2 separate regions of the Homo sapiens genome follow, and region 2 is linked to region 1. Evidence: fine-mapped expression QTL. Tissue or cell type: whole blood. Region 1 holds a variant in brackets; the other region holds the start of a gene. All regions are shown on one strand. Distances are from middle to middle.

The links. PIP is the estimated chance that this variant, and not a neighbour inherited with it, causes the effect.
Region 2: it holds the start of KRT8, and the variant in region 1 is fine-mapped to the expression of KRT8 in whole blood (TOPMed, PIP above 0.99).

What each region holds. Positions count from the first base shown.
Region 1 is chr12:52,959,415-52,962,258 of GRCh38, forward strand. No RefSeq gene overlaps it. Among named protein-coding and RNA genes, the nearest start is that of KRT18, 12 kb to the left of the region's middle. The variant G/A (reference allele first, on the strand shown) is at 1,590.
Region 2 is chr12:52,903,556-52,906,227 of GRCh38, forward strand. It overlaps KRT8 (keratin 8), which reads right to left and starts at 1,521. Exons shown (of 8, transcript NM_002273.4): 1 at 1,103-1,521. The coding sequence starts at 1,426. RefSeq lists a silencer at 292-461.

The DNA of each region.
Region 1 (2,844 bases):
TTGGGAGGCTGAGGTGGGAGGATCACAAGGTCAGGAGATCGAGACCATCCTGTCTAACACAGTGAAACCCCATCTCTACTAAAAATACAAAAAAATTAGCCGGGCGTGGTGGCGGGCGCCTGTAGTCCCAGCTACTCAGGAGGCTGAGGCAGGAGAATGGAGTGAACCTGGGAGGCGGAGCTTGCAGTGAGCGGAGATTGCACCACTGCACCCCAGCCTGGGCGACAGAGCGAGACTCAAAAAACAACAACAACAACAACAACAACAACAAAAACAATGTACACGTTATCTTACAGTTTGTTATCTTACCGTTTGGTATATCAGAAGCCCTATCAGGGCTTCTGCAGAGCTATTTTCCTTCTACAGGTTGTAGGTGGAACTGGTTTCCTTGACTTTTCCAGCTTCTAGAGGTCACCTGCATTCCTTGACTTGGTCCCATCTGCCATCTTTAAAGCCAGCATCTTCAAATCTCTCCCCACTTCCCTCTCTCCTGACTTCTGCTTCCATTATCCTCACATCTCCTTTCTCTGACCCTTCTGCCTCCTTCTTATAAGGATCCTTTGATGACATTAGATTTACCCAGACAATGAGCATAATCTCCCCAACTTAAGATCTTTGATTTACATGGCAAGGTCCCTGTTGCTGTGTAAGGAAACTCACAGGCAAAGAGGGGCGGTTAGGATATGGACATCTTGGGATGGGAGGGGACCATTATTCAGCCTACCATAGGAAGGGGGCAGCAGATTGCAGGATTTTTTGTTTTTGTTTTTCTTTTGAGATGGAGTTTCATTCTTGTTGCCCAGGCTGGAGTGCGATGGCTCAATCTCAGCTCACTGCAACCTCCGCCTCCCGGGTTCAAGAGATTCTCATGTCTCAGCCTCCCGAGTAGCTGGGATTACAGGCATGCGCCACCATGCCAGGCTAATTTTGTATTTTTAGTAGAGATGGGGGTTTCTCCATGTTGATCAGGCTGGTGTCAAAATCCCAACCTCAGGTGATCCACCTGCCTCAGCCTCCCAAAGTGCTGGGATTATAGGCGTGAGCCACCACGCCTGGCCAGCAGATTGCAGTTTTAAGTAGGGCAGCCTGGGCAGGAAGTGACATTGGGCCAAGACTGAAGGAGATGAGGGACCTAGCCTGGCATATCTTGGGGATCAGCAGCGAGGATGGGTCCTGGGTGTATGAGCAGCATCTCTCAGCCCCCGACCTGCACATTCAGGTTTGCCCTTGTATGTACCCTTAGGTCTCCTTGGGGCCCACAGGGCATTGGGAAAGGGTCGACTGCCAACGTACCTTGCCCCAAAGCTCCTCCTCATCCCCCCTGCACCCTGCCACTGAAGGCCCTCACAGGCCACCAGTCTAAGTCCAGCAGCCTCCCCTCTCTCCTCATCTTTTTCAGCCTCTGCAGCACTTGACCCTGATGTCCTTCTGCTCTTGACCTGCACACCACTGCGCTCCGCAGTCCTCTCACCTCTGCCTGCTGCACTTCATCCATCTGCCCTTTAAACACAGGCCTTGCAGGCTGTCCTCAGCTTTTTCTCTTCTTGGGCCTTTTTTTTTTTTTTTTGGAGATGGAGTCTAACTCTGTC[G/A]CCCAGGCTGGAGTGCAGTGGCACAATCTTGGCTCACTGCAACCTCCACCTTTGGGGTTCAAGCGATTCTTCTACCTCAGCCTCCCAAGCAGCTGGCATTACAGGTACCCACCACCAGGCAGCTAATTTTCTGTATTTTTAGTAGAGATGGGGATTCACCATGTTGGCCAGGCTGGTCTTGGACTCTTGACCTCAAGTGATCCACCCACCTCAGCCTCCCAAAGTGCTGGGACTACAAGTGTGAGCCACCGTGCCTGGCCATGGACAATCTTATTTTTATTCCCTGACTCTGTTGCTACCTCTGAGCTGGTATCTCAATATTTACCTCCAGCCCTAGCCTCTCTTGAGCTTCAGAACCGTGCTATATTTTCCAACTGCCTTTGTTTCATTTCATCATGTGGCATACTTAGCTATTTATGTCATCTTCCCCATGAGACTGGAAATGCCTTGAAGACAGGTACCCTATTTTTTTGTTTCTTTGGTTTGTGTTATTGTTTTTTGTTTGTTTGTTTTGTTTTGTTTTGAGACAGTTTCACTCTTGTTGCCAAGGCTGGAGTGCAATGGCGTGATCTCAGCTCACTGCAACCTCCACCTGCTGGGTTCAAGTGATTCCCCTGCCTCAGCCTCCCAAGTAGCTGGGACTACAGGCATGCGCCACCACACCCAACCATTTTTGTATGTTTAGTAGAGATGGGGGGTTCACCATGTTGGCCAGGCTGGTCTCAAACTACTGACCTCAGGTGATCTGCCCACCTCAGCCTCTGAAAGTCCTGGGATTCCAGGCGTGAGCCACCGCACCCAGCCTACCCTGTTTTCTTCATCCTGGTGTCATCCTGGATTGGTCATATAACAATGGCAATTACCATAATAACCAGTATTTGGTTTTTTTTGGGGGGGACAGAGTTTCACTCTTGTCACCCAGGCTAGAGTGCAATGGCACGAACTCAGCTCACTGCAACCTCTGCCTCCCAGGTTCAAGTGATTCTCCTGCTTCAGCCTCCCAAGTAGCTGGGATTACAGGCGTGCACCACCATGCCTGGCTAATTTTTGTATTTTTAGTAGAGATGGGGTTTCACCATGTTGGCCAAGCTAGTCTCAAACTCCTGACCTCAGGTGATCCACCCACCTTGGCCTCCCAAAGTGCTGGGATTACAGGCATGAGCCACCGCGCCTGGCCAGTAACCAGTATTTACTGAGCACTTTCTATGTGTCAGGCACTGTGCTAAGCACATTACATATATTAATTCACTTAATC
Region 2 (2,672 bases), 56 kb before region 1:
GCCCAATCCTCGGGGCCGCCGGGGGCCCGGGGCCCCTCAGGCAGCGGAGTCCCAGGGCTGCAAAACCCGGCCTGGCTCCTGCTGTGTGAAAGTGGAGCCAGGCCGCTGGGGCGGAGCAGGGACAGGACGCGAGAAAGGGACACGGGCTGAATGGGCGAGGGGCGTTGGTGGGCGACCGCGTTATCTGAAGCCATAAACTTAACAGGACGTAAACCCCGGGCGGGGCGTCCCACGCCCGCAGACTTTGAATCCTGCATGGGCTTTCCGAGGCCAGGCCCTGGCGCCTCCTCCACCCCACCCCAGCCCACCCCACCCCACCCCACCCCACCCACACCGCCCCCGACGCCGAGCTCCGCCAGGTGGAGGAGAGCGTCCCGAGACTGCTGCCCGCAGCCCCTCACCCCGCCCTCGGCCCCGCCCACGCTGCCGGCGCAGGGGCCGGGGTATGACTCATTCTGTGACCCCCGCACTCAGGCCTCCGGGCGCCAAAGGCCTCAATCAATATTTGCCCGTTTGAACCGAGACACCCACTTCCTTCTCCTAGAATGCTAGAATCACACCAAACCCCTATGTAAAAAAAAGAAAAGAAAGAAAAAAAATCACAAAGGCACCACTGGGGAGCCCTTGGGGTAGTGCTGGCGAAGAGGCGAACCTGGAGGAGGGTAGTCCCCGAACAGCTGGGACTGCCGCAGGGCGATAGCTTAAAAGACGGTCAGAACTCGGGTTGGGGTGAGAACAATAACCGCTATTATTTTTTATAATTTGGGGACAGAATGACCTGAGGAAGAACGGGATTTGTAGAGAGGGGTGGTGGGAACTAGGCTGTACCCTTAAGTTGTCTCTCTCTTCCAAGACCCTCCAGTTTAAAAGGGAAGAAGGAAGCCCCAGGATTCATCCCGGCTGTCCAGACCCTCTCCCCACCCTCACCCAGCCCAAACCAAGGTGCACGGGAGGGGTGAGTCGGAGGATGGAAGGGAGAGTGTCGCCAGGGCGGGTGAGGCCCAGCAGGACGCCAGCTGGGGGCTGGAGATGTGCATAGGGACCGGGACTACCAGGAGAAAGGGGCTGCGGGCACAGTCAGCCACGCAGGGGGGACCCTCACCTTGTCTATGAAGGAGGCAAACTTGTTGTTGAGGGTCTTGATCTGCTCCTTCTCCTGGGTGCGCACGGCCTGGATGTTGGGGTCCACCTCCAGGACAAGGGGGCTCAGCAGGCTCTGGTTGACCGTAACTGCGGTGATGCCTCCCATGCCGCTGGCCCCACCATAGCCGCCGCCCAGGCCACCGCGAAAGTTGCTGCTGCCCACTCGGGAGAAGCTCGAGGAGCTGATGCGGGAACCGGGCCCACTCGTGTAGGAGCGGCTGCTGAAGGCCCGGGGGCCAGAGGTGGACACCTTGTAGGACTTCTGGGTCACCCTGATGGACATGGTAGAGGCAGGAGTGGAGGCAGGCGGGCCGAACCAGGCGGAGATCCTAGAAGGAGCGGAGAAGCTGCTTCTTGGTGAGGAGAGCTCTCAGGAATGGCCTTTTATAAAAGAGATCCCAGCCCCGGGGGATGGGGGGGAAAGGCCTCGTACCTGAGTGGCTAGGCCCAGAGGGGGCTGGGCCTAACCCGTCACCTGCCACCTCCGGGCAGGACTCAGGTGGGGGCAGCAGAGAGCTGCCGCCACCCAAGGGCCCGTTCCAACCCTGGAGCCCACTCCAGCACCACCCCCAGAAACCCAGGAAAAGGCAGTTCAGTGAATATGAAACTGGAAGAAATCCTGTCCTGGCACAAGTGCCTGTAACAAGCAGACTTGCCTGGGCCGCCCAGCCACTACAACCCTGACTCCTGGGTCTTGTCTCCCTCCCTCCTGGGGGAAATAAACTGGAGGACTGGGAAGCATGGGAAAAAGGGGTCTCCTAGTATTTGGGTCTCCTCTGAGCTGCCGACACCCCAGAGAAACTCTCCTGTGTTCTCCCTGATTGAAGCGATTATGAGGGCCTGCCTGAGCTGGATGACAGAACAGCTGGAGTCCAAAGCCTTGAATCTGAAATCAACCATTTGCCTCATCTTTCCAGGTTACTGTTCTACCCCTAGCACCTGGTGCAGTGCCAAGAGGGTCTGGGTAGATATTTGTGGAATGAATGAATGAATAAATAAATGAGTGAATAAACATCACACGCGCACACACACACACACACACACACATACACATACACACACAGTGGCTGTCGTCCCTCTACATCTGAAGGTGCAAGATAAAAAGAGATCCAAGGCCAGGCACGGTGGCTCACGCCTGTAATCCCAGCACTTTGGGAGGCTGAGGTAGGCGGATCACGAGGTCAGGAGTTCAAGACAAGCCTGACCAACATGGTGAAACCCCATCTCTACTAAAAATACAAAAATTAGCTGGCCATGGTGTAATCCCAGCTACTCAGGAGGCTGAGGCAGGAGAATCACTTGAACCCGGGAGGCAGAGGTTGCAGTGAGCTGAGATCGTGCCACTGCACTCCAGCCTGGGCGACAGAGCGAGATTCCATCTCAAAGAAAAAAAAGAGCGAGATCCAACACAGCACTTTTCCTGAACATAACCCAGGGGCTTCCTCTCCTTCCAAGATCCTAGGATCCCCTGGGCCAGGTGAACACTGTAGGCCTCACTGAAGGGCCTAGAGAATGATGAACAGGGCTAG